Linked DNA regions of Homo sapiens. The protein of the gene in region 3 interacts with the protein of the main gene of each other region in a biochemical or structural test. Each region holds a gene or a part of one and is shown on either strand. Other genes may lie near its edges.

Region 1 (7,025 bases), on a different chromosome or scaffold from region 3:
ATCCCCAAATTAACATTTCCAAAAAGAACTTCCTAGTAGTCTCTCCCATGGTCTTCTTCCTTTCAACAAAGGGCAACTCCATTTTCCCTGGTGCTCAGGCCAAAAACCCTGGAACCATCCTTAGCCCTTCTCTTTCTCTAGCACTCCAACCCATCAATAAATCCCATTAGCTCTGTCCTCAAAATATATCAATGGCTACCTTGGGGGAAAGCAGGCAGATACTCCCTGGAAACGGTCTATGTCTTGATCCGCACAGGGAATATATGGGTATGTGTATACATATATATGTGTAAAACTCCACTGAGATTATTGCACTTTGCATATTTTACTATATGTTATACCTTAATAAAAACATACACACATAGGTGTGTACATATGTGTGTGTAAAATGTCCCACCCCTTTCACTGCTTTTACATCACCCTCATCCACACCACCATCATCTCTAGCATCAACACCTGAATTATCGCAATAGTCTGCTAACATCTCCCTGCCTCTGCTCTTGCCCTCCTTCATCCAACCTTTTATCTACCAAGCAGCCACAGCAACTCTGTAAAAACAAAGGTCAAATTACCCCTTAACTCAAAACTCTCCAATGACTTTAATTTAGAATAAAAGTCAAGAAATAAAAGAAGCCTGGGCGCGGTGGCTCATGCCTGTAATCCCAGCACTTTGGGAGGCCGAGGCGGGTGGATCACGAGGTCAGGAGATCGAGACCATCCTGATTAACACGGTGAAACCCCGTCTCTACTAAAAATACAAAAAATTAGCCAGGCATGGCGAGCGCCTGTAGTCCCAGCTACTTGGGAGGCTGAGGCAGGAGAATGGCGTGAACCCGGGAGGCAGAGCTTGCAGTGAGCCAAGATCGCGCCACTGCACTCCATCCAGCCTGGGCGACAGAGTGAGACTCCGTCTCAAAAAAAAAAAGAAATAAAAGAAATATTTAGAATAAATTATTTAGAATAAAAGTCAAAGTCCTTGCAATAACCTACAGGGCTTCTCCTACTATTCTCCTCTCTGCTTGCTCCACTTTTTCTTACTGAAGTAGGTAGAAGAATTTTAAAACTGTGTGGGTTAGACGAAAAAGCTCACACCTACCCAAATAATCTATACTCTCAAATAGTTGATCTATCCACTGCCTCCAAAAAAAAATAACAATTACCTGTCCCAATAGTTTCATGTAATTCATAATATTTGAGAAGTTCATCATAATCTTTCATAGTCCTCTTGCAAGTTTATTTGGAATTAGAAAAAGAACCTAGAAGACAGAGAGTACATAATCAATAAAGGAAATAATACCGGATCATCTCCTCCATTCTTGTAACTGCAAATCTAAATAAGTCTTATGCATTTACATGATACTGAAAAAACTGATTATTGGCCATATGAAAAAAAGGATTCTTATCTCACACCATACATAAAAATGAATTCCAGATAGACTTAAAAAGTATGAAACATAAACCTTTAAAACTTTTTAAAGAATATTGTCATTATTTCAGGATAGGAGAGGATCACTTAAATAAAGTACTAATAATAATAATGAAAAAAATTAATATATTAAACAACATTAAAATTAAGAACTTCAGCTGGGCACAGTGGTGCGTGTGTTGTCAGCCACTTGGGAGGACAGCTTGAGCCCAGGAGTTCGAGGCCAGCCTGGGCAACATAGCAAGACCACATCTATAAAAAAAATAAAAATAAAACTAAGCACTTCTATACAACCAAAGACACCATCAAAAAAAGAAAACCATAAATGTGAGAAGATACTTGCAACAAATATAATAGTGGATGTACACAGGAAACACATAAACTCTGACAAAACAATAAGAAAAACTCAACAGCAAAATAAGCAAATGATACAAAAAACTTTTCTCAGCCGGGCATGGTGGCTTACGCCTGTAATCCCAGCACTTTGGGAGGCCAAGGCAGGCAGATCACGAGATCATGAGTTCGAGACCAGCCTGGCCAACATGGTGAAACCCCATCTCTACTAAAGATACAAAACATTAGCCAAGCGGGGTGGCATTCACCTGTAATCCCAGCTACTTGGGAGGCTGATGCAGGAGAATCGCTTGAACCCGGGAGGTGGAGGTTGCAGTGAGCCGACATCGTGCCATTGCACTCTAGCCTGGGCGAAACAGCCAGACTTTGTCTCAAAAAAAAAAAAAAAAATTTCTCAAAGAAACACAAATGGCCAACAAAAACATGGAAAAGGGTGTCTCTGAGCCTACTCTGGCTCGGGAGGCTACCTGAAGAAAAAATAATTTAAAAAAAAAAGACACGAAGCTGGGCAAGGTGGCTCACACCTGTAATCCCAGCACTTTGGGAGGCTGAGGAGGGTAGATCACCTGAGGTCAGGGTTCGAGACCAGCCTGACCAACATGACGAAACCCGTCTCTACTAAAAATACACAAATTAGCCAGGCATGGTGGCAGGAGCCTGTAATCCCAGCTACTTGGGAGGGTGAGACAGGAGAATCACTTGAACCTGGGAGGCGGAGGTTGCAGTAAGCTGAGATTGTGCCATTGCACTCCAGCCCGGGCAACAAGAGTGAAACTCCGTCTCAAAAAAAAAGGCCGGGTGCGGTGGCTCACGCCTGTAACCCCCACACTTTGGGAGGCCGAGGCGGGTGGATCACAAGGTCAGGAAATGGAGACCATTGTGGCTAACATCATAAAACCCTGTCTCTGCTAAAGCTATAAAAAATTAGCCAGGGGTGGTGGCACGCGCCTGTAGTTCCACCTACTTGGGAGGCTGAGGCAGGAGGCAGAGGTTGCAGTGAGCCGAGATCACGCCACTGCACTCCAGCCTGGGCAACGGAGCGAGATTCTGTCTCAAAATAAAAAAAAAAAAAAAAAAAAAAGAAGACATGAAAAAATTATCAGTAGTCATCAGGAAAACCCAAACTAAGACCCCAGTCATACACAATTTTATTATGTATATGATATGTATTTTATTATTATGCTTCACAACTTATGTGGGTTACATATACTGTTAATTATACATCAAATAATAAATAAAAATTAGTTGTAAAAAAAATTAGGTAGATCTTATTGATTTTGTCTCCCTGAGTTTTAAAATTAAGTAGTTTATTTTTTAAAAACCATAGAGCTAAGTAGGGCCCTGTTATGCACATTAATATACAAAGTCACACTCATACCATCTCCATCTTACTTGTGGAAAATAACCTCGTGGTTGACTTTTAGAGATCAGCAGTGTGTCTGGAAAAACTGCTAATGCAGTTCTAGAAAACTCTTGAATTTGCTCTTATTCATTTATTCATACAGATATTTACTGAGCACCTATGATATGCCAAACCTGCCCTTGGCACTAGGGCTATAATGGAGAAGAAATATGATTCTGCCCTCATGGAGTGTATATTCTAGTGGAGAAGACAAAAGGCAAATAAGTAGACAACAAATTAATACTTATAATTTATAGGCCGGGTGCAGAGGCTCACGCCTATAATCCCAGCACTTTGGGAGGCCAGGGTGGGCGGATCACGAGGTCAGGAGTTCGGGACCAGCCTGGCCAACATAGTAAAACCCGGTCTCTACTAAAAAATATAAAAATTAGGCTGGGCGCGGTGGCTCATGCCTGTAATCCCAGCACTTTGGGAGGCCAAGACGGGCAGATCACCTGAGGTCGGGAGTTCGAGACCAGCCTGACCAACATGGTGAAACCCCGTCTCTACTAAAAATACAAAATTAGCCAGGTGTGGTGCCACATGCCTCTAATCCCAGCTACTCGGGAGGCTGAGGCAGGAGAACTGCTTGAACCCAGGAGACGGAGGTTGCAGTGAGCCGAGATCGTGCCACTGCACTCCAGCCTGGGCAACAAGAGCGAAATTCCATCTCACAAAAATAAATAAATAAATAAATATATAAATAAATTAGCCAGGCCTTGTGGTGTGCGCCTGCAATCCCAGCTACTCGGGAGGCTGAGGCAGGAGAATTGCTTGAACCCAGGAGGCAGAGGTTGCAGTGAGCCAAGATCGTGCCACTGCACTCCAGCCTGGGAGACAAAGCAAGATTCTGTCTCAAAAAATAATAATTACTATTATTATTATCTATACTAAATACTGAAATAAAAATAAGCAACAGTGGTTTCTGAGAAGGTAACATTTAAGCCAAGCTCTAATTCAAAGGATGAGAATTGAGAAAATCAGCCCTGCCAGTAATCAGACTGTGATATTCCTATCAAAACTTGAACAATGGTTTCAATAGAATCTGAACATAACCATATAAACAATGTTTCCATACAAGGCTGTTAAAATAAAGATCCTTTATTTGACTGACTTCATTGTCTTCAATGACATCCTCAGGCCCACCTCATTCTTCCCTCATTCTGCCCCTTTCAACTCACTCTGAGACTACCCAAAATTCTCAAGAGTATGGTTTCTCTTGCGCAGCAAACTAAATACATCTAATGATTTTTACTACAGATGTGGTCTTTGGTCTGTAGGCCTTAACAGTCATAGCCCACAAAGAAATAGACGGAGAATATTCCAGAAAGAGGGAATTTAGGTGCAAAGATCCTAGAGGAAGTAAAAGTTGACAGGTACTGAACTGAGGCTGCTTTTAGAGGTAACAGGTGATGGAAATGCAGCTCTGGAGCTGGGACAATTGATTAGCCATGAGGTGAAGGAAAAAAAAAAACACATTGGATCTCTATCTCACACCATACAAAATCAGTAACAGTTGTAAAGACTTAAAAGCAAAAGACAAATATTTGAAATGTTGAAAACATAGATAGCTAAGGTCTTCCCCATACCAAACCTACAGCTAGGAGTGGCAAAAGGAAGAAGCGTAAAGATAGCTGGGCATGGTGGCTCATGTCTGTAATCCCAGCAATTTGGGAGGTCAAGGCAGGAGGATTGCTTGAGGCCTGGAGTTCAAGACAAGCCAGGACAATATAGCAAGACCTTGTCTCTACTAAAAATAAAAAACAGCCAGGCGCAGTGGCTCACACTTGTAATCCCGGCACTTTGGGAGGCTGAGGCAGGCGGATCACCTGAGGTCGGGAGTTCAAGACCAGCCTGACCAACATGGAGAAACCCCGTCTCTACTAAAAATATAAAAAATTAGCCAGGCGTGGTGGCCCATGCCTGTAATCCCAGCTACTAGGGAGGCTGAGGCAGGAGAATCACTTGAACCCGGGAAGCAGAGGTTGCGGTGAGCCGAGATCATGCCACTGCACTCCAGCCTGGGTAACAAGCGAAGCTGTGTCTCAAAAAAATAAATAAAAATTAAAAATTAAAATCTAGTCGAGGCCAGGTGCAGTGGCTCACGCCTGTAATCCCAGCACTTTGGCAGGCTGAGGTGGGTGGATCACTTGAGGCCAGGAGTCACATGCCACCACTCCTGGCTAGTTTGTTTGTTTGTTTGAGATGGAGTCTTGCTCTGGTGCCCAGGCTGCAGTGCAGTAGTGCGATCTCAGCTCACTGCAACCTGCGCCTCCCAGGTTCAAGCTATTTTCCTGCCTCAGCCTCCCAAGTAGCTGGGACTACAGGCGAACAACAACACCATACCCGGCTAATTTTTGTATTTTTAGTAGGGATGGGGTTTCGCCATGTTGGCCAGGCTGGTCTCAGACTCCTGACCTCAGGTGATCCACCCTCCTTGGCCTCCCAAAGTGCTGGGATTACAGGCGTGAGCCATCGCCCTGGCCAAGCAAGCCTGTTTAAGCCTCAAACTGATGAGTGGCAGGTGCCACGTAAACTACCTTCAAATTCTCTGTTCTTCACCCTGCCCTTATCCAGAACTGAGTGACTAGCATGTTACTAAGCCTTAATAATGGCCATGAATTTGGAAGACCTAGAGTGTGAGTTCAACCTCAGAAGTGTGGTGAGCTTATAAAGGAAGACAGAGCTTAATAAGAGAAGGCCCTTCATACAATGATGAGTAGTCTTCTTAAAATTGAGGTGGAAAAAATTCTGAATGAACTTATCAAAACCCCAAAAGCCACAAAGGACATTTTAAAAATATCATTTTTCTATGCCTGAAACACTGATTCCATGAATCATTTTACTTGGAGAGAAAAAGAAAATTATTATCAGCAAGTAAAAAACGGCTGGGCACAATGGCTCCCGCCTGTAATCCTAGCACTTTGGTAGGCCAAGGCAGGTGGATCACCTGAGGTCAGGAGTTCGAGACCAGCCTGACCAACATGCAGAAACCCCGTCTCTACTAAAAATACAAAAATTAGCCGGGCGTGGTGATGCACACCTGTAATCCCAGCTGCTAGGGAGGCTGAGGAAGGAGAATCGCTTGAACCCAGGAGGTGGAGGTTGCAGTGACCCGCGATCACGCCACTGCACTCTGGCCTGCACGACAGGAGTGAGACTCCAGCTCAAAAACAAACAAAAAAAATTTGGTCAATGAATAGAAAACTAGAGCAGAAGCTTTAGAAGGAAAAATATCGACACTCAAGAAAAAAATTAAATCAGCTTTAAAAAACAAGGTTCAGTCTTCAACATCAAAGCAGAAATAGCACACAAAAAGATAACATGCAAAACGACATTCTGATAAAATAAACAATATTAAGCCATTTCCTAGGAAGAGATCACACTGGACCCAACTTAATAAGTAGGTTGAACATTTAACCTAACGAAATCTGCATGAACACAGTAGGCAAACATTAGAAGAAGCAAGGTCAGGTCCCAGTACTGAGGGAAAACTGTTGATAGAAAATGAAACATTCTGCTTCCACTGGAGTAGAAAAAGTTACTCAAGGCAAGGAGATATCACAGAGGACAAATTTATTCTCACTGGGCACCTGAAGGCACAGGATTAAATACTTTAAACAGCAACACTAATTCAGAAATATTTTAAAGGGCATTTGTCAGTGGGGCAAATGTGGGGATAAACTGGAACCTCATCCTAAAAACAAACAGGAACCATAGGACTAAGAAATTCCAAAAGGCAATAAAAACAGTAAAAGTATAGAGGTCAACCTAAGGCTCAGAAATCTTTGGAATCCTGATACAGAAGAAAAAAGAGAGCAGGAGAATGGAAATGGAGGAACA
Region 2 (7,025 bases), about 41 Mb from region 3:
TAGACAGACAGTGTGTAACTCCTAATAGGTTAGGGATAAGGGGTGCTGCCTGATGGCTGACAAGCTTTATACTGGTTTTCAAAAGAAAGGAGTCATGGGCAGTAATTTAGAAAGGCAGCCAGCAGGGAAGGTGGTAGGTCCCCAAGTGTGAATTCCTTTTCCCTTCAAAGCAGCCCTCGCTGAGTTCATTTTTACCTGATTTCACCTGGAAGAAAAAGAAAGTTCCCAATGGCTCAGGATGTGCGGGAAAGACAATATGATTATGATTTGTTTTGGAGTACGTACCCCTCCCATTCAATCCCAAGTGGCGGCCAGAGGGAATCAATCATCTGACTAAGGGTTTATGTAAAATACAGGAGAGGAGAATGCCCAAAACACTTTGAATTTGGCTCTGGAATGCATGCCGAACTTGATGGATGTGCCTAACTTTCAGACCAAAGCAGGACTTTACAGTGTGAAGGCATGACTGGGGAGAGGCTGAAAGGCAGCTCAGCTTTTTCATCTCCCTCCCCTACTGGCGATGACATCACTACTCTGACTAATATACACAATAGCCTATCTGTAGCTGTATCTATTAAAATCCTGTCTATCTGGCCTCAATTTTAAAAGATGGAGGGAGGCTGAAAAAATGTCACTGTTTTTCACAGGTCTTTTTGATAGGAGAGGAAAGTATCTCAGAAGTGATGTACAACCTCTGATCAGGCAATAGGTGACACAAATTATATCATATGCTTAAAAATTAGTTGTAAATACCTGGCAGCTTTCCAGTATATTCAGACACCTCTCTCTCATAAGCTGTTTTGAGAGTCTGCATTTATACATTAAATTAATACTATTTAGAAACCACTGTTCAAAACAGAAGCACTGGCCTCTTACCAGAACATCATTGCAGATGTCCTGCAGTTCTGCCTCTATCTTCTCACGGTACTCTTTGCCCATCTGCTGCTTCTTCTCATTCCTCTCTGTTTTCTGCTCAATGCTGGAGATGACACGCCAGGAAGAGCGGCGGGCGCCTACCACATTCTTGTAGGCAACAGAGAGCAGATTTCTCTCTTCGTTGGAGAGTTCATGCCCCTGTTCTGTGACTGCCTTCATGGCTGCAGCCATATCATCATATCGCTCAGCCTGCTCAGCGAGTTTGGCTTTCTGTACCAGCTCACTTTTATCCATTGTCATTCCCTAGAACAAGAGCAAGAGAAAAAGAAAGAGCAAATGTCAGGTTTCGGGGCCTAGGAAACGTGTGTGAATCTTCTTCCAACCCATCTGGAAAGCAGCATACTAAATGTGAAACATCTCATTCCAAATGCCATCAACAATATTGATGATATATCAAACACCTCTAGGGTTAAGTACTTTGCTAAGGCCTTTATATTATTTTGGTCCAGTAATCTTCCCAACAGTCCCAGAGTAGGTATGTTCATAACAACAACTTTCCCCTTCTTATGGGTGAAGAAATGGAGGGTCAGGGAAGGCAAGTGATATGCCCAGAGCAACATGCAAATAGATGGTGGAGAGCCAGAACTCCAGCTCACATCTATCTGGCTCTAGAGCTTTTGTTTTCTTCCATTAGCCTAATTCACCTGCCTGGCACATACAGACTGCTTAATAACTATTTCTTTAGAAGTTTATGCTTACTAGCCGGGTGCAGTGGCTCACACCTGTAATCCCAGCACTCTGGGAGGCCGAGGAGGGCAATTCACGAGGTCAGGAGTTCGAGACCAGCCTGACCAACACAGTGAAACCCCATCTCTACTAAAAATACAAAAATTAGCCAGGCGTGGTGGCAGGCATTTGTAATCCCAGCTACTGGGGAGGCTGAGGCAGGAGGATCGCTTGAAACCAAAAGGCAGAGGTTGCAGTGGGCCGAGATCACGCCACTGGACTCCAGCGTGGGCAACAGAGTGAGACTCCATCTCAAAAAAAAAGTTTATGCTTACTATATATATGTCCTTGACTTCTCTCAGTAATTGTCTGGTTTGTTTTAATGACCTTAATCCAACTGTATCCTGTAATACAGGAAGTCCTCTCTTCACTGTCCTGTAAGCAACTCTGGTTTTGACTAAACCTGTTTTTTCCATAGTACAGGAAAGAGTAAGTATGATGTTTGTTTCAACCAATCCTGAAGCAAAAGATATGATTTTAAATGATCTATTTGGCTGCACCCATCAAGCAGTAGATAACTGAAGGATGGGAAAGATTATATCACATCTTCTGTAATCTGCTAACTTTGTTACTAGGACACACTGCACAGGAAGAACATAAACTAAGGGCAGTCAGACTTGGGCTCTATCTAGCACTAGCTCTGCTACTTACTTACAAGTGGCATGACCTTGGTTAAATCACTTAACCTGAGAGCTTCGGTCTCTACTGGGCAATAAGAACACTACCCAGGGCTGGATGTGGTGACTCACGCCTAGGATCCCAAGAGTTCAAGATTATCCTGGCAAATCAGTCTCTAACATAGTAAGACTTCATCTCTACAAAAGAAGAAAAAATTGGCTGGGTGTGGTGGTGTGCACCTGTAGTCCCAGCTACTCAGGAGGCTGAGGTGGGAGGATCACTTGAGCCCAGAGTTCCAGGATGCAGTGAGCCGTGACTGTGCCATTACATTCCAGCCTGGGCAACCAACTGAGACCCCTGTCTCTAAAAAAAAAAAGAAAGAACACTACCAACTCTTTTAGTGGGCCTGTTATGAGGAACAAAAGACCTGATACATGTGAAGGCACCTTAAAAAGTATAAAGCATTATATAAAAATATCAGGCACTAATTTTGTATATGGTATAGGTTGCAAGAGAAAGGGGTGTATAACAAGATGTACAGCAACATAACTTGAAACCATAACTGAATTCATCTGAACCATAACTGAGTTCATTTAAAGTTTTTCTGAAATAGACAAAAATCCTAGTGACTTCAGTTTATCAATTTATCAAATCCATATGCCAATCAGTGAATATCTCTTATCAACTCACCACAGTCAGTTCCCCACTGCAATAATCACCATTTACAGAGTGCGGTAATTTTAATAAGTAATTTTTGGATAAAATAATTGAAAAGTTATTTACTAAACAAGAAGAGTTAATTTTATGTACTGTTGGTTTAAATATTGATATATCAATCTGTGCCACACAGTATAAAAATACACTAATATCCTGAGCTATAAAAACATGAAATGCTACTTTAAACAGTAGTAGTAATGTCAGGTTTTTTTGTGTGCTTTGTCTGTTTGTTTGAGACAGAGTCTCACTCTGTCACCCAGGCTGAAGTACAGTGGTGGGATCTCGGTTCACTGCAACCTCCACCTCCAGGGTTCAAGTGATTCTCCTGCCTTAGCCTCCCAGGTAGCTGGGATTACAGGCACGTGCCACCATGCACAGCTAACTTTTGTATTTTTAGTAGAGATGGGATTTTGCCATTTTTGGCCAGGCTGGTCTTGAACTCCTAAACTCAGGTGATCTGCCCGCCTTGGCCTCCCAAAGTGCTGGGACTTACAGGCGTGACCCACTGCACCTAGCCAATGCCAGTATTTTCAAAACAAATTCTTTCATTACTACATACATGGTATCACAATTTAAGGCTCTGAAAATGATTATTTGTTTGGAGACGGAGTCTCATTCTGTCACCCAGGCTGGAGTTCAGTGACGCAACCTCGGCTCACTGCAACCTCTGCCTCCTGGGTTCAAGCGATTCTCCTCAGCCACCCGAGTAGCTGGGACTGCTGGCATGCACCACCACACTCGGCTGATTTTGTATTTTTAGTAGAGGTGGGGTTTCACTACATTGCTCAGGCTGGTCTTGAACGCCTGACCTCAGGTGATCTGCCTGCCTCGGCCTCCCAAAGTGCTGGAATTACAGGTGTGAGCCACCGCACTTGGCCTCTTTGCTATTTTTAAATTAACCATTTTCTGCTGGGCGCAGTGGCTCATGCCTGTAATCCCAGCACTTTGGGAGGCCGAGGCAGGTGAATCACGAGGTCAGGAGATCGAGACCATCCTGGCTAACACGGTGAAACCCCGTCTCTACTAAAAAAACAAAAAATTAGCTGGGCACAGTGCACGTGCCTATAGTCCCAGCTACTGGGGAGGCTGAGCAAGAGAATCGCTTGAACCCGGAAGACGGAGGTTGCAGTGAGCAGAGATCGCGCCACTGCACTCTGGCCTGGGCAACAGAGCAAGATTCCATCTCAAAAAAAAAAGGAAAAAAAAAACAAGAAAGTATGACCTCCACTCACAAAATGATTTTGCCTCAAAAGTCATTTCTGTATTTTCAAGAGAGAAATTCTACACACAGGGCCTTATCACCTAAAAATGTTTTAGGGAGCACAATAAGATACACTCAAAATCTAGGTGATTCAGAAAGAATTGATTCTCCAGTTCATAACTATAATTTTTCTTCCTACTGCTTATTATCTAAATCACATGCAGAGCTGTGTCTTATATAAGGCTCACTAATTGTAAGCTTACACTCAGTGAGGCAAGTCTCACTTTGATCCATCTGACATCTTCACTCACAACACTAGAATAAAACTAAGGCAGAGAGAGTAATCCTCAAGAAACATTCCATTTGTTCCCTTCTATTTCCCAGAACCCCCACAGCAGTCAGAAGAGGCCACATGGTAGTTCTGTCCAATGAAAGATAAGTAGAAATGACGCTACTTCCAGGCTAACACTGTGAATATCCTACGTGTGCCTCCCCAGGCTCTTTTCCCTCACAGCAGCCACTGAGAAGGCCATGTATTCTAGGTGGTACAGTCATGCAACTGTAGAGTTTTTGTCAGCCTGAGTCCCCGGGTGACTGTATAGTGCAAGACTCCTGCAGACCTGCATTGGACACGCAGGGTGAAAACAAAAGAAACTTTTGCTGGGTTAAAACATTGAGATGCTGGAGCTGTTGGTTACCACAAGACAACCTGTTCTACTCTAATACAAGTACATCAAAAATACTCTACCATCTTAAAAGTATATATAGTTGGCCCTCCATATCTGCAGGTTCCAGATACACAGATTCAACCAACCGTGGTGGAAAATAAAGAAGGAAAAAAACACAAAATAAACAAGTATCTTCAGATTTTGGTATCCCCAGGTGTCCTGGAACCTACACCCCCTGGATACCAAAGGATGACCACTGTCTTCATATATCTAACTTTCTTGACCATAAGGTCTTTGAGATCAGGACAATAAATATCTTCATCATTAAATAACCCTACTTCATGGTTTCTAAAAGTGCCAGGTACACCAGAAAGAAGCCAACTTTCAATGACCCAACAACCTTCAGAAAATTTCCAGTCTGTAGACTAACTCAAAGTTAGAAGTCACTTAGAGGCCCACTTCAAAGTTCATAGAACAGTACCTATGCAACTCTACCTGTGGATTACTCCAAATCATAAAGTACTGGCCAAAAGCCAATTCAGAGCTAAGCCATCCCATGTGGTATCATAATGGAGTAATAAAGGATTGCCGTTGCTAAATAATGCCATCAACCTCTTCAGCTCTACTAGGCCCCAAAATTAAGCTATCCCCCTTTTACTTCTCTCCTTCTCAAGGATTAAAAGTTAAATCATACTACTCCAAAGAATCTGGACTATTCAGTGGGACCTCCCAAATATGCCTTCCCTATTTCCCAAAATAAAATGCACCCTTTCTGTTTGGGGTCAGCTATTTTAAGCTTCTCCGAGATTACTGCAAGATTTCTTAGAGATTGAGAACCATCATGGCAAGATAAGGACTGAATGCACACCTTTTTAAAATCTGTATCCATTTATCTGTTTCAAATATTTTTAATTATACACATACAGAAACAACTTACAACAAACAAAATCCATAGCTAAAGGTCCTGATGGCTACTGCTTACATAACTTTTGACTTATATAACATGGATTTTGAAGCAACTAGACCAATTTCAACAGGAAATGGGTTACACAACACCCAGCAGTTTGGAGGAAGGCAGCAAAGGAGAAATGAAATTGTTCCTATTTCTACATCTACAATAAATCTCCCATCCAAAATCTTGCCCTAGTGGCAATGCTTTCAGTCACTCATTATCTACAGCCCCCTCCATGCCTTTGCTGTAAGACCCATTTTCCTATAACTCTGCTCAAGTCACTTCCCGCTCAAAATTCTTTAAAGTTCCCTGATGCCAAAAGCAGAGTCAGATTTCCTCCCCTATCAGTGAAAGCTTGCCAACCTATCTTCCAGACCCCCACATCATGCCTTCCACATCATATGTGCTTCTGCCAAAATGGTTTTCTTACATACAAAGTATGCTTTTCTATCTTTGCTCACCAAGCCACTCCCTCTACCTGGAATGGCTTTTCCCAAATTTACTCTGCATACAAGATTCTTCACAGTGTGGCTCAGATACCATCCCTTCCATGAAGCCTTTCTTAAGCTGTTTAAGCCATAGCCATAGCTACATGTGGCTATTCACTTAAAATGTGGCTAGTGCCACATATTGAAATCATATTTTGTTCATAATGGGTTAAGTAAAAACAGATAGAATCAATTTCACTTTAAAAAAATTTTTAAATGCAGCTACCAGAAAAATTTAAATTACATGTGGCTTATATTCTATTCCTATGGGACGGCATTGCTCTAATGAATATATTCTCACAAAGCATTTCGCTGATACCTGTCAATGTCTTACCACGTTTCTTCAGTACTAAAATTACTTACATAGTGTCTCCTATTTCCCTTCCTACACCATAAGCTCCTTTGGACATATCTCCCACAGCATCCTGTACATAATTGGTAGGAACAAATATCTGCTGAATGAACAAACTGATCCTGAAATGTAAGCATAAAACTGCAGAGTTGGTAGAGTTCTCCCTTTTCTCAAATAATTCAAAGCACCTATTAGCCTCACAAGCATATTAAATCTTCATTACATTTGTACCTAGTTTCTTGAATTTCTGTGCCCTCTGAAATTCAAAGAGTAATTCACTCTTCCAGTCAGGCATGGCAGATCAATCTATAATCCCAGTGCTTTTGGAGGCCAAAGCTGGAGCATCGCTTGAGACCAGGAGTTCAAG
Region 3 (7,595 bases):
TCCCATCAGTTCCTCCCTAGGAATTCATCTTGTAGATAGCACACAGACACATAAGGGCATACTTACTGCATCGTTGTAAAAGCTAATATCCTAAATGTTCAGCATTAGGGGCTTGAGTAAATATATATTGTTATGGTACTAATATGGATCCATCTCCAAGTAAGAAGAAGAAAGGTATAGAACAGTGGTTTTTATTTTTATTTATTTATTTATTTTTGAGACAGAATCTCACTTTGTCACCCAGGCTGGAGTGCAGTGGCACGATCTTGGCTCACTGCAACCTCCGCCTCCTGGATTCAGGTGATTCTCCTGCCTCAGACTCCCAAGTAGCTGGGATTACAGGCACATGCCACCATGCCTGGCTAATTTTTGTATTTTTAGTAGAGACAGGGTTTCACCATGTTGCCCAGGCTGATCTTGAACTCCTGACTTCAGGTGATCCACCTACCTTGGCCTCCCAAAGTACTGGGATTACAGGTGTGAGCCAGCATGCCAGCCTAGAACAATGTTCATATGCTGTTTGTATATTCTTTAAAATACAGACGGATTTACGCTTGTAAAGATATAGACCTGCAGCCACTAACCCTAAGTGGCCATTGAACTATTAATTTATTTATTTTATGTTTAGAATCAAAGTCTCACTCTGTTGCCCAGGCTGGAGTGCAGTGGTGGAATTATGGCTCACTGCAGACTCAAACTCCTGGGCTCAAGCTATCCTCCTACCTCAGCCTCCAGAGTCACTTGGATTTTTTGTTTGTTTGTCTGTTTTTGAGACGGAGTCTTGCTCTTTTCGCCCAGGCTGGAGTGCAATGGCATGATCTAGGCTCACTGCAACCTCCGCCTCCCAGGTTCAAGCGATTCTCCTGCCTCAGCCTCCCGAGTAGCTGGGATTTCAGGTCGGTGCCACCAGGCCAAACTAATGTATGTATTTTTAGTAGAGACAGGTTTTCACCATGTCGGCCAGGCTGGTCTCAAACTCCTGACCTTGTGATCCACCTGCCTCGGCCTCCCAAAGTGCTGGGATTACAGGTGTGAGCCACCGTGCCCAGCGAGTCACTTGGATTATAGGCAGGGGCCACCACACCGGGCTAAGTTTTTAAAAAATGTTTTGTAGAGACAAGGTTTCACCATATTGCCCAGGCTGGTCTTGAATTACTAGCCTCAGGCAATTGTCCTGCAGCAGGCTCTGGAGTTGCTGGGATTATAGGTGTGAGCCACAGTGCCAGCACTATTGAGCCCTTTAAATGTTGCAAGTACAAATTGAGATGTGCTGGGGGTGTAAAATGCATACTAGTTTGAAGACTTGATATCCAAAAATGTAAAATATCTCATTAATTTATATTGATAACATGTCGAATAATATTTTGAATACATTACATTGAATAAAATATTACAGTAATTTCATGTTTCTTTTTTACTGTTTTAAATGTGGCTACTAGAATATTTTAAATTATGTATGTGGGCCAGGCGCAGTGGCTCACGCCTGTAATCCTAGCACTTTGGGAGGCCGAGGTGGGTGGATCACCTGAGGTCAGGAGTTCGAGACCAGCCTGGCCAATATGGCAAAACCCTGTCTCTACTGAAAATACAAAATTGGCCAGGAATGGTGGCGGGCACCTGTAATCCCAGGTACTCGAGAGGCTGAGGCAGGAAAATCGCTTGAACCCAGGAGGCAGAGGTTGCAGTGAGCCGAGATCATGCCACTGCACTCCAGCCTGGGCGACAGGGCGAGACTCCATCTCAAACAAACAAACAAAAAAACCCAGAACCCCTCTGTGGTCTTGCCCACCTCCCCCCTCACTGGCCCAGAGGTGACCTGACTGTGGGATTTCTGTTTTTTTTTTTTTGGTTTTAGAGAATTTTATTTTATTTTATTTTATTTTTTTATTTTATTATTATTATACTTTAAGTTTTAGGGTACATGTGCACAATGTGCAGGTTAGTTACATATGTATACATGTGCCATGCTGGTGTGCTACACCCATTAACTCGTCATTTAGCATTAGGTATATCTCCTAATGCTATCCCTCCCCCCTCCCCCCACCCCACAACAGTCCCCAGAGTGTGATGTTCCCCTTCCTGTGTCCATGTGTTCTCATTGTTCAATTCCCACCTATGAGTAGAATATGCGGTGTTTGGTTTTTTGTTCTTGCGATAGTTTACTGAGAATGATTATTTCCAATTTCATCCATGTCCCTACAAAGGACATGAACTCATCATTTTTTATGGCTGCATAGTATTCCATGGTGTATATGTGCCACATTTTCTTAATCCAGTCTATCATTGTTGGACATTTGGGTTGGTTCCAAGTCTTTGCTATTGTGAATAGTGCCGCAATAAACATACATGTGCATGTGTCTTTATAGCAGCATGATTTATAATCCTTTGGGTATATACCCAGTAATGGGATGGCTGGGTCAAATGGTATTTCTAGTTCTAGATCCCTGAGGAATCGCCACACTGACTTCCACAAGGGTTGAACTAGTTTACAGTCCCACCAGCGGTGTAAAAGTGTTCCTATTTCTCCACATCCTCTCCAGCACCTGTTGTTTCCTGACTTTTTAATGATTGCCATTCTAACTGGTGTGAGATGGTATCTCATTGTGGTTTTGATTTGCATTTCTCTGATGGCCAGTGATGATGAGCATTTTTTCATGTGTTTTTTGACTGTGGGATTTCAAGGGATTCAATAGTATAATGCCTGCCCTGCCACATACACCCTGTGCAGATGTATATTGGCTGGGTGGGGGGTGGGGGGGATACCTGTTGTGTTTATTTTGAAAATGCAAATCTCGGGGCAGTTTTTTTTTTCTGGTTTTTGGGCTGGGTGGCTTTACAAGGACACTTCCCCCTTCCCTCCTGGCACTAAGGGCAGTCACATCCTCACTGGAAGTAGTGGCTGGAGGTCCAGGGCATAACCCCTGACCCAGGGAGGATGAACCGGAAATTCAGTCTTGCAGAGCCCTCTGCACAGCACAGGAGCTGGGCAAAATTTGGAGAAAAGGAAAGGTCACGTTCCCACCTTGGCCACCCCTCTCAGGTGGGGCTGGGGTCTTCCCCTACCCTTCAGATGCATTGGCCCACCCAGCCCCCCATCACCAGGCCCTCCCTTTTGCCACCCCCATCCAATGCACCTTGGGTCTGGGTGGCTGGGACTGCACGAGAAGGGGTACTCCTGCCTTGCTGAGCTGCAGCCCGCCCCCCGCACCACCACCCGCCCAGCCAGAGGCCACTTCTAACCTGGGGAGACAGGATGCGAAAGCTGCTCACTACCCACCGGCTTTTGGGTGCAGCCTTCAGGCCTCTTGTTCCAGGAGGCCTGGAAAACGAGCGGGGCTGGAAGGCATTTAGATAATTGGAAGATGGGCCGGGCACAGTGGCTCGTGCGTGTAATCCCAGCACTTTGGGAGGCCTAGGTGGGTGGATCACGAGGTCAGGAGTTCGAGACCAGCCTGGCCAATATGGTGAAACCCCCGTCTCTACTAAAAATACAAACATTAGCTGGGCGTGGTGGCGCGCTCCTGTAGTCTCAGCTACTCGGGAGGCTGAGGCAGAAGAATCGCTGGAACCCGGGTGGCGGAGGTTGTAGTGAGCAGAGATGGCCACTGCACTCCAGCCGGGTTGACAGAGGGAGACTCCATCCCAAAAAAAACAAAACAAAACAAAAAGAAAGATAATTGGAAGCTGCTCCGCTTAAAACGAATGACAAATTCAGCCTCCCTGGTCTGGTCATCAAAGAAACACCAATTAAATAATATGGTGCCATTGGCACCAAGTTAGCCAAATCATCAATGGGCGTGATACTTAATTCGCCTCTCTGGTTGCTGACACCCTCCTCGACCCCCAGCCGCGGAAATCCATTCCTAGTTCCACCGTTTAGAGCCTCTCCTGGGGCTGCCGCGAAAATTGGGCCGGTTGGGGTAACATCTAACCTGGGGTCCCGCGAAAGAGCCCATCAGTTCCGCTTGGGGGCCCCACTGCCCTCCCACCTCCTACGCTGGGCGCTTCTCCTGCGAATGACGTTTTGCTGCTGCTCAGCGCAGCCAGTCGCGGAGGCGGGGAGGCTGCGCGGTCAGAGGCGCCTGGAGCGAGCGAATCCTGGCCCACCGCCTGCCCAACCGCGTGACCTTGATTGAGTTAATGAACTTCACGCCTCAGCGTCCAGGTCTGTAAAATGGGGTGTCTAACGCAGACCGTACAGCCCAGCTGGGTTTAGCAAACTTCCGGGAGCCAGTTGGAGCCTCTCCCCATCCCTAGCGGTGATCCCAGGTGACGACATGCCGCGGGGGGTCCTGCGGAGGCCACCCTAGGGCGTTGCTGCTGCCTTTGGGAGTGTGGAGCTCCAAACCATGTCGCGAGAGGCGGATTTTGGGAGGCCGGGATCCTCGCGCCAGGGGGATGTGCGAGGGTGTGGGATAAATCTTAATTCCTCCGGCCCACCCAAAGCCTGGAAATCCAGCCTCCGCGCCTCTTGCCCTGCGGGCCCCGCCCTCAGTCCCGCCCTCATCTAACCCGCTACCCCATTGGTGGCGTCCGGCGGCGCGGCTGCTGTTATTTTTCGAATATATAAGGAGGTGGAAGTGGCAGCTGCAACTAGAGGCTTCCCTGGCTGGTGCCTGAGCCCGGCGTCCCTCGCCCCCCGCCCTCCCCGCATCCCTCTCCTCCCTCGCGCCTGGCCCTGTGGCTCTTCCTCCCTCCCTCCTTCCCCCCCCCCCCACCCCTCGCCCGCTGCCTCCCTCGGCCCAGCCAGCTGTGCCGGCGTTTGTTGGCTGCCCTGCGCCCGGCCCTCCAGCCAGCCTTCTGCCGGCCCCGCCGCGATGGAGGTGCCCCAGCCGGAGCCCGCGCCAGGCTCGGCTCTCAGTCCAGCAGGCGTGTGCGGTGGCGCCCAGCGTCCGGGCCACCTCCCGGGCCTCCTGCTGGGATCTCATGGCCTCCTGGGGTCCCCGGTGCGGGCGGCCGCTTCCTCGCCGGTCACCACCCTCACCCAGACCATGCACGACCTCGCCGGGCTCGGCAGGTAGGACACCCCAAGGAGGCTGCATATGGGGGTGAGAGGCTAGGTCTGGAGTCCTGGGCCTCCTGGAGAACTGGGCATGGTAGTCGAATCCAGGAGGTGGAGTCCGGGGAGGCATCCTGAGCAGTGGAGAGGTACGCCCTTGTTCCCTCCTAGGGGCCCAGGACATGGGAAGTGAGACCTGGGCTGTGCCCCCCACACCTCCAGGTGACCTGCTCTCAGTCTGCACAAGCCTCTCCAAATCTTCTTTCCCCTCACTCCCTCCTCCCTCATTGTGCCTCCACCACGCTGCCTCCGTAATCTCTGCCCGGATAGCCACCATTTTGCCCCAGGATGGGAATCTCAAGCCTGGAGAGGGAACTTAAGGGTGGCAGAGCCGTGGAGCACTCACACATCCATGCCCCTGCTCCCTCCACCCCAGTTCTGCCCCCAGAATTAAGACAATTAATTAAACACTGATCCTGCTCCCTAAGTCTGCAAGGGGAGAGCTGGGTTGTTCCAGTAGGAGAACCTGGTCTTGGTCCATCCTTCAGGAAGGGTCCTGGAAAGGTGGGGGTCTGACAGTTTAGGGGAAGGCTCTCTGGGGCGGCTCTGCTAGACCACCAACCCTTAGGCTGGCCTCCAGCCAGGCAGCCTTGCTCACACCCTGGGCTCACCTTGCCCTGCTCCTGAGAGGACCTTTCCTAAACCAGTCAACGAAGAGAAGACGCTTTAGGGCCTCTGTAGAATGAACCTTCCTTGACCTGAGAAGAGGGGGCCCTCAGGGCCATTGCTTTCCCGGTGTAGTGTTTCGCTCAGTTCTTTTCTCAGCAAGGGAGTGGGAACGTGGGCTAGCCAGGCCTTGAGCCCCACGTTTACCTTTCTCCTTTCCCGGGTCCCTGTTCCCTTCCCAGCGAAACCCCAAAGAGTCAGGTAGGGACCCTGCTCTTCCGCAGCCGCAGCCGCCTGACGCACCTATCCCTGTCTCGACGGGCATCCGAATCCTCCCTGTCGTCTGAATCCTCCGAATCTTCTGATGCAGGTGAGGCCCAGGGGAGCCTGGGGAGATCTGCCTGTGTCAGGAGAGTTTGTGGGGGCTGCCTGGGCCTCCCAATTTCCCTGCCGATCAAACTAACATCCTCCCCACAACCTGGTGGGCCCAGGAGCCTCTCCCCCACCCTCCACAGAAATGGGAGGAAGACACACCTCTTGTGGGGCTCACCACACCCAACGCGGACTGGCTGAGTGGATGAGAGGGTGGGGCCCTCTACGGAGATGAGATCTTACCTATGTAAAACCACGCTCCAGAGTTCCTAAACCACAACCCTACCTGGGAAGCACCCAGGGCTGAGAGTTGGTCTTTAAAACATTCTTAGCCTATAACCTCTTCTTTAAAAATCTGTTGTCTCTTCTAGAACAAATTATTTTAAACCAGTTCAAGAAAAATGCTTAGTGAGCATTGTGGTTTAAAGACGCATATGAAGGAATTTCCATAGTAAACAGGGAGTGGAGCCCTGTACCGTCTGGGGGACGATGTGTCAGCTCTCAGGGTCCATGGTTGGGTTTTTGTTTCATTTTCTAATGTGTCAAAGTCCAAACTAGAAACTGTTTTTTTTTTTTTTTTTTTTTTCATATTGGGACATGGTGGGGGAAAGAATACAGAAAGTGCCACTACTTTCAAACCAAGGTGCTCTGTCCCCTCAGGTCTCTGCATGGATTCCCCCAGCCCTATGGACCCCCACATGGCGGAGCAGACGTGAGTAGAGAAGGGAATGTGTACTTCCAAGCATTCAGCACCTGTCTTTAAGAATCCTAGTTCTACCATAAATTCACCCGGGAGGCCTGGGAAAGCAGACAGACCATGGGGTGGCTTCAGGATCCCCATGGCCGGGGGGCTCACTGACTTTCTCAGGCCTTGGCATTCTGCTCCCTGTCTCAGAGAAGGATCTGCTCTCATGGGAGCCAACCGAGTGTGGGCTCAGGGCCAGGGATAGTGGGGACAGTGGCCACTGGGAGAGCAGATACTAGACTACAGCCCATGTCTTGCAGGAATACAAGCCCAGCGTATGTCCCGTTTTTCTTTCTTGCCTATACCCATTTTTTTCTGTGAAATATTACAATTTAAAAATATGATCCAACTAATTCAAAACTTTAACTCACTCTAGGCCAAACAAAACACAGTTGCCTGCAGATTGATTTGGCTCTTGGCCGATCAGCAACCTCTGACTTCGATGACACTTTACCCTCTGGCCAGCCCTGGTCTAGGCCCTTTCTGCAAGGGAATGGAGAGAGAGTTGGTGGGCTCTGGCCTGGACAGACCATCCCCTTGGCTGTGGGCATGGGTGGTGTCTTCCAGAGCACAGCTGTTCCCATCCAGTTGTTAAAGCCCAAGCAGCGGGGCAGCTGCCAGCCATTAGTAGGGACAGCTGGGCATCTCTGGCCTGTGCTGGGGACTGTGGCTTTGGGTTTAGGATAGTGACTTGTCTTACCTCCCATTGCCTTTGATCAGACTGGGTTGGGCTGCAGATTGGTTCACAAACAGGAAATGGGGAGAGGATTGGGTGGGGTTGGGGGACTGCAGGTTGGTTTTGGTGGCAGCACA

What was found.
Region 1: the proteins of CDC25B (region 3) and MELK form a complex in vitro, tested with the Homo sapiens proteins (one study listed by BioGRID).
Region 2: the proteins of CDC25B (region 3) and YWHAB form a complex in vitro, tested with the Homo sapiens proteins (2 studies listed by BioGRID).

Annotation. Positions count from the first base shown.
Region 1 is NC_000009.12:36,575,875-36,582,899, reverse strand, and holds part of MELK (maternal embryonic leucine zipper kinase), read right to left. Parts: intron 2,828-7,025; exon of another isoform or gene 2,029-2,827; intron 1,257-2,028; 5' UTR 1,219-1,256; coding exon 1,161-1,218; intron 1-1,160. UniProt on the Homo sapiens protein: Serine/threonine-protein kinase involved in various processes such as cell cycle regulation, self-renewal of stem cells, apoptosis and splicing regulation. Has a broad substrate specificity; phosphorylates BCL2L14, CDC25B, MAP3K5/ASK1 and ZNF622.
Region 2 is NC_000020.11:44,895,685-44,902,709, reverse strand, and holds part of YWHAB (14-3-3 protein beta/alpha), read right to left. Parts: intron 1,180-7,025; 5' UTR 1,177-1,179; coding exon 877-1,176; intron 1-876. UniProt on the Homo sapiens protein: Adapter protein implicated in the regulation of a large spectrum of both general and specialized signaling pathways. Binds to a large number of partners, usually by recognition of a phosphoserine or phosphothreonine motif.
Region 3 is NC_000020.11:3,791,715-3,799,309, forward strand, and holds the start of CDC25B (M-phase inducer phosphatase 2), read left to right. Parts: upstream 1-4,595; 5' UTR 4,596-4,817; coding exon 4,818-5,017; intron 5,018-5,907; coding exon 5,908-6,035; intron 6,036-6,697; coding exon 6,698-6,749; intron 6,750-7,595. UniProt on the Homo sapiens protein: Tyrosine protein phosphatase which functions as a dosage-dependent inducer of mitotic progression. Directly dephosphorylates CDK1 and stimulates its kinase activity.